2 linked regions of the Homo sapiens genome follow. The protein of the gene in region 2 purifies or fractionates together with the protein of the main gene of each other region. This does not show direct contact. Each region holds a gene or a part of one and is shown on either strand. Other genes may lie near its edges.

Region 1 (3,826 bases), on a different chromosome or scaffold from region 2:
GAGACTCTGTCTCCAAAAAAAAAAAAAAAAAAAAAAAGGCAGGTAATTTTTTTTTCTTTTAAAAATTGATACATATTTGTATTTATTAAGTCTGAAAAGTACACGGTAAAATATTAACCATGGTTTTTCTCAGAGTTTTCTCCTTTATACTTTCTCTGTGTTTTCTACATGCACTACTTTCATAATCAGAGAAGATAAAGCTATTTTTTAAAAAAGAATAGGCTGGGTGTGGTGGCTCACACCTGTAATCCCAGCACTTTGGGAGGCTGGGGTGGGTGGATCATTGAGGTCTGGAGTTTGAGACCAGCCTGGCCAACATGGCAAAACCCTGGCTCTACAAAAAAATACAAAAATTAGCGGGCCATGGCGGTGTGCGCCTGTAATCCCAGCTACTAGGGAGGCTGAGGTCCAAGAATCGCTTGAACCTGGGAGGCGGAGGTTGCAGTGAGCCAAGATTGCACTACCACACTTCAGCCTGTGTGACAAAGCAAGACTGTGTCTCAAAAAATAAATAATTTAAAGAAATAAAATAAAAATAAAAAGAATATAGGTACTCAGATCTGCTGGATTTGTCTATATACACACAAACACACACATGTGTATATATGTATACATATATTTTAAATTGTAACATAACACGTACAATATGCAGCTGCTGAGGACATGTGCGGGTGGGGAAGGTGGGGCAGAGACGGAAGAGGGGTGCATGTGCTGAAAGGTGCTGTGTGGAGGCTGAAGCCCAGTGGGATGCAGATGCTGCAGTGGGGTGGCCTGATGAAGTGGGTACTGTGAAGTGTGTCTGCGTACACATTTTAACGTTATAACATAAAACGTACCATTTCAGCCATTTTAAAGTGTACAGTTCCATGGCATTAAATACATTCACACTGTGGGCCGTTACCCACAGAACTCTTTCCATCTTGCAAAACTGACTCACTGTACCCGTTAAACAATAACTCCCCATTCCCCCTCCCCAGCTCCAGTAACCACCATTCTGCATTCTGTCTCTATGAATCTGACTACTCTAAATACCTCATGAGAATGGAATCTCTTACATATTTTTGAAATCTGGTTATCTTTAGATTGTATAGACTTTTCTCAGAGACAAAACTTGGAAGTGGACAAAACTGTATTTCCCATTTTGTCTTTCACATTGCTATTATCGTCTTCCTGTGTCACACGGCATCTGGAGCCAAGGCAGTGCTCACCTGTGTAGGTGTGATGTGGCTGATGTCTTCAGATGCAAGCTGCTTCAGAAGAGTGGTCTTGCCAGCATTATCCAAGCCCAGGAGAAGTATTCTCACCTCCTGGTCTGGTGCACTTTTCAACTTGCGCAAAATTGAGAGCAAGCCCTTCAACAACCACAAAGGAGACAGATTACTCTGGGGGCACTGACTGTGATATTAACTGGATATGAGAATAACTTCTCCTTGAAAAAAGTTATTGGTTATGGAGAGCTTATGTTATTATTTTTCATTCTAATGCCACTTATTCCATTTGCTTCCTCTTTCCAAGTTTCGGTAGAAGTGCTACAGTAAATTCAGCAACTTAATAAGTAGCAGGGCTTATTTCTGCTCCTCCAATCAATCTAGCTTAGCAGTCACCCCAAATCTCCTGGGAGTGTGAACTCTACCCCATCTGTGTTCCTAAAGCCCTTTACATACACTTAGAGCAGAACATTCATCATATCAAACTAGGTAACTGATGTTTGTATTTTTCTCCTTTACTAAAGTTTCTCGTGGTAAGGGCTATACTTGTCCCATAATGCCTGGCACTTATCAAACAGACACTAGATAACACTTGTGGAATTAAATAGGATGACACACCCAAGTTAACACACGATTTTAAGGTGTTATACAAAAATATATAAAAAGGCTATATAAAATTATAGTTGGGCTTCCTGTTAATGATTTTATCTATTTCATCATTTCACATTGCATGCCTGTATCAAAACATCTCATGTACCCTATAAATATATAACACCATGGACCCACAAAAATTAAAAGGAAAAAATTTTTAAAAAAGATTTTATCGCCGGGCACGGTGGCTCACATCTGTAATCCCAGCACTTTGGGAGGCCAAGGTGGGCGGATCACGAGGTCAGGAGATCGAGACCATCCTGGCTAACACGGTGAAACCCTGTCTCTACAAAAAATATAAAAAATTAGTCGGGCGTGGTGGCAGGCGCTTTGTAGTCCCACCTACTCGAAATGCTGAGGCAGGAGAATCGCTTGAACCTGGGAGGCGGAGGTTGCAGTGAGCCGATATTGCACACTGCACTCCAGCCTGGGTGACAGAGCAAGACTCCGTCTCAAAAAAAAAGATTTTATCTATTTCAGCACATCTTCAAGACTTCTTCATTCAAAATGTTCTACTATCATCTTTCACAAGACCCTACAGGATAGGTGCATGGTATAGATAATCTGTGTTTTTTAGATGAAAAATTTGGTACAACAGAGAAGTTAAGAAATCATAAAAGGCATCCATGAAGCAAAACAAAACAAAACAAAACAAAAACCCACCAAAATTAACCAAGGAATTTTTTACTGTTAATCTAATATTTCCCTCTGTCACCCAGGCTGGAGTGCAGTGGTGCAATCTCGGCTCAACTACAACCTCTGTCTCCTGGGTTCAAGCAATTCTTGTGCCTCAGCCTCCAGAGTAGCTGGTATTACAGGCATGTGCCACCATGCCTAGCTAATTTTTATATTTTTAGTAGAGATGGGGTTTCGCCATGTTAGCCAGGCTGGTCTTGAACTCCTGGCCTCCAGCGATCAGCCCACCTTGGCCTCCCAAAGTGCTGGGATTACAGGCCATGAGCCACCTCTCCTGGCCATTATTTATTATTTTTTATGGATAGAAATATAAAGCATGTTGCTGGGCATGGTGGCTCACGCCTATAATCCCAGCACTTTGGGAGGCCAAGGCAGGAGGGCTGCTTGAGCCCAGGAGTTCAAGACCAGCCCTGGCAACATAGTGAGACCCTGTCCCTACAAAAAATAAAAAACAAATAAGCCAGGCATGGTGGCGCAGGCCTGTGGTCCCAGCTACTCAGGAAGCTGAGGTGAGAGAATTGCTAGAGCCTGGGAGGTCGAGATTGCAGTAAGCTGTATTTGTACCACTGCACTCCAGCCTGGGTGACAGAGTGAGACTCTGTCTCAAAAAGAAAAAAAAAGAAAAAAGAAAAAGAAAACAAAGAAAAAATAAATAAACCATGTTGATTTTTAGTTAAGAACATAAGAACATCTTTATAGGAAAGTTATTTGTTCTGTGCTATAGCTGATAATCTTGTTCTAACGACACATGGCTAGAACAAGAGTCAAAGAATCCCAGAGTTTAAAGGGCATATAATTTAATCTCCCAGCCCAAGAAGAAATTCCTTCAAACTGAGTCTTAGAATTATGCAAAATGGTTGTATTTGTTATTCACATTGTACCAGGCAATAATTCAAACCAGTTTGTTCACTAAGATCAAAGGATACTTCTGAGAAATAATTCTCAACAACTGCATCTTTGGACAATCATACGCAAATATGCATAATTATTAAGAATTCCTTTCTGCCTCAGAGACTCTTTGTTTACCACTTCTAGTACTGTATCTGTACTGACTTGCTAAGGACCACATTAACCTTTCTATGCCTCAATTTTTTCCAGCAGTAAGATGGAAGGTTTAGTCTAAGCTAGACAAATTCTATGCCAAAAGATTTGGGGGACAGAGATTGAATAGATTGGAAACAAACAGAAGTCTGGCTTTTTAAAAGGCCAGACTTTTTTTTCCTTTTTCTTTTTTTTGGGGGGACAGGGTCTTCCTCTGTGGCCTAGGCTGG
Region 2 (3,547 bases):
CAGTTCTGGGTACCTAACCTGCTTAACTGAGGGATGTGATGCTGGGTTCATTCAACACATGTTCTTCCTGGAGCATAGCTGGTGACTGCTCTGATGATTTTGTCTTTCCTCTTCCTCATTCCCCTTTCTTCTTATCTACTTACAAAACCACATTCTTGGAAAGCTTCCTGATTAATGGTCCAGATAAGGAAGCTCTAGCAATATCACTTTAAATGCTTAATATACAATATTTAGAAAACCTTATGATTGTAAAAGAGCTTAAAAAAGATGTGAAAGAACAATCACTAAATGCATTGACAACATATGTGTTAAGTGAACAATATGTACCAAAATGGACAGATGAGAGGTGTACATTGGGGTGTGAGTTGATAATCCAGCAGACTGTGGGACTAGAGGGTCTACGGAAAAAACAAAGGAAGAACATACAAACAAATTTTAAAACACTGTCTTTCAAACACCTAAAACCTGTTTGGAAATAGAGAGCAAGAATACATATTGGATTACACTTAGCTTTTATTTTCCTCTAGATTTCAGACTTTAAGTGCTCTGAACTTCTGCACTCTGCAAACCTACTTCTAATTATTTACATATGATAACATGAGTCTATGCAGCTTGTTCTCTATAGGATATTCACAGGACACTACAGAATGTTTTGGGAGATTATGTAATATTTAAAATATTCAAATTATACTAAAAATGTATGTAAAATGTATTGAACATAGGCAAGTTTCAATACATAGATTTTGAGTGAATGCTTGCAACTTTGGTTCCATTCTCTCTACTTCCTTAAGGTGGTGTCCAAGAGTACATTTTTATAAATAAAAAGTTATAGTACACATCCCTAAGGGCAGCAAGTAGAAAACGTGCTAGGGAGACTCGATCTCACTTTGGAATCTATCCTGGGAGACAAATGCCTCTACAAATGGATTAGAGAAGACAGTTTTAAAGAGGAAGATAATACAGGTAAAATCTGGGGTTTTATGAGAGAAAGAAAGAGGTAGAAGAAAAAATTTCAAGCTCGAACAGGGTCATCAGGTGGCACAATGCGGTCAATGCCTGCAAACTCAGGGGTAAGTATTATTCTCCCTGTTTACAGTTCCGTGGAGGAGAAGTGACTTGCCTGTGGTCATACAACAGAGCAAAGAAAAGGCTTGAGCTAGAACTCAGGCCTTTGTTAGGTCTCCCCTTCCTCCTAGCACATTGGCAAATTGCATGAGGAAAGTAGAGGTACAGTTGAGTTCATGTACAACAATAAGGCATTCAGGTAAAGTGAATGAGGGCAGAAGTTTTATGATTTAGGGAAGGTGTAAGACAGGAAAATATCTTTGTTCCCAATTAAGAAAGAGATCCCTTGACCATCAGTTAGAGATTCCCCCAAGTCCCTCTTTGCCATAAGTCACTGAAACTGAGATCCAAGGCATGGCTTCTGTGAGTCAGGAGAGCTTAACCCAGAGGAGAGATTTCAGAACAGGATATTTCCTATTTTGAGTATCCTGCTCATGCCAGTCATGGATAAATTTGCATCTGGCTTAAGAAATTACTGGATCAGCATTGTTTTGGGTAGTTTCACTTCCTGCTGGGTGGGGTAGCAGGCTCTATAAAGAGATCCTCTGCTGCACGACTCTTAAACCCCTGGTACCTGAGCACTGATCTGCCTTGGAGAACCTGGTGAGTCGGCTTCCTTGAGTTCCTCTGTTCTTTGTGCCCTGAAATGTTGAGTTTAATCTGAATATGGCAAGTTTGGTGGATCCAATCCTATGAAAATTGACTTGATGCTACTTAGTGGATGAAAATTTAAGATTAGAGCACAATTATATGCTATTTTAGCTTTCTTTTGTTATACAGGTAGGTATCCATATGGACAGAGAAGTTAAGGGGTAACCTTTGATATGAAGAAGAAAAAAGAACAAAGTATTTTTCTTTATTCTCTGTCTTTCTAGTGTCCTTTACAAAGGTTTGTGTCTTAGCAGGTGTGAAAGACTACAATTCTCCCTGAGCAGCCCTTTGCTCTATGCCCAAGTCAGCCCACTTGGACTTTATAACAGATAATGATGATAGGAATAGCATATTAGATTGCCCAGGGTGTCTGAACTTGTGACTGCCTTTCTTGAATTGGTTATTTTCAGGGAAATAAGATGCTTGATTCTTTATAACAGAGATAATTTATTTGGAAAAATTGTATGAGAAAACACAGGATTTCCTAGGGACAATGAAGCAATTTGTTAAAGTGGAAGGGAGAAACCAGAAAGTCTTGAAAAGGTAATTAAGAATTTAAATAATTTCTTGGAGATTGGAGAAATAATATGCCATGGTATTACACAAGCTTTGGCTTCTCTCTCTGGAGGATTCCCTTCCCACGAACACTGTTGTATCATTTCTTTCAGATCCTGAGACTCCAGCAGGATGTCTTATCAACAGCAGCAGTGCAAGCAGCCCTGCCAGCCACCTCCTGTGTGCCCCACGCCAAAGTGCCCAGAGCCATGTCCACCCCCGAAGTGCCCTGAGCCCTGCCCACCACCAAAGTGTCCACAGCCCTGCCCACCTCAGCAGTGCCAGCAGAAATATCCTCCTGTGACACCTTCCCCACCCTGCCAGTCAAAGTATCCACCGAAGAGCAAGTAACAGCTTCAGAATTCATCAGGACCAAGAAAGGATAAGGATATTTGGCTCACCTCGTTCCACAGCTCCACCTTCATCTTCTCATCAAAGCCTACCATGGATACACAGGGAGCTTCTTTCTCCTTAGCCAGTAATCTGCCCATGATGATCCCTGACAGCAAAAAGTTTCTTTTCTGAGGCTGCCATACTGCCACTGTCCAGGTGGAGACTGAGCAAAGGAAGTCCTGGGCTGTGCCAGCTCCCAGAGCTTCGGAAGAAAGAGCAGCAGCTCTCTCCCTGGGAACCATCAGAGAATTCTGTTGATGTGTTCTGTGTCTGTCTGTCACCTGGTCACGAGCTTCTACCACCTTTGCAATTGTCACTTATCTTTCACTCCCTGAATAAAGTATCTATGCATATATATTTGTGAATGGATCTTTTGTTTATTTTCAAATCTGCTTTATTAGCAATAGTATGTAATCTTTTGGATTTATTTCAATCTTTCTTTGATTCACAGCAGGATCTCACAATTGGAGTCATACCAAAGATTATTTCTGTATCATTTTAAACCCCTTTTATTTTCCCTAATTAGCATTTGATTGATTTGAGGAGGATATTATTCAACTTCTCTGAATTGACAACTTCTCTTTACTGCAAAGTGAGCAAAATAACATTTACATTACAAACTAGTCTAAGGCATAAAATTTGATTACTATCTGATATTTGGTTGGCACAATGCCTGACACGTAATTAGCTGTCATTTGATAGAGTTGTATTCGCAGCAACATATTATCATTGTTTTCACCATCACCATCCTCCTCCTCCTCCTCCTCATCATCATCACTCCCCACTACAACCACTACCATATTTGTTCCAGCAAGAGAGTGGCTTGGGTGTAACTAACATAGGAAATAAGAAGACTCTCTAATGTTATTTGTATTGATTCATA

Evidence for each region.
Region 1: the proteins of SPRR2A (region 2) and ARL3 purify together in Homo sapiens (affinity purification with mass spectrometry; one large-scale study listed by BioGRID and IntAct). This does not show direct contact.

Annotation. Positions count from the first base shown.
Region 1 is NC_000010.11:102,704,138-102,707,963, forward strand, and holds part of ARL3 (ADP-ribosylation factor-like protein 3), read right to left. Parts: intron 1,353-3,826; coding exon 1,209-1,352; intron 1-1,208. UniProt on the Homo sapiens protein: Small GTP-binding protein which cycles between an inactive GDP-bound and an active GTP-bound form, and the rate of cycling is regulated by guanine nucleotide exchange factors (GEF) and GTPase-activating proteins (GAP).
Region 2 is NC_000001.11:153,055,592-153,059,138, reverse strand, and holds SPRR2A (small proline-rich protein 2A), read left to right. Parts: upstream 1-1,626; 5' UTR 1,627-1,668; intron 1,669-2,384; 5' UTR 2,385-2,403; coding exon 2,404-2,622; 3' UTR 2,623-3,019; downstream 3,020-3,547. UniProt on the Homo sapiens protein: Gut bactericidal protein that selectively kills Gram-positive bacteria by binding to negatively charged lipids on bacterial membranes, leading to bacterial membrane permeabilization and disruption.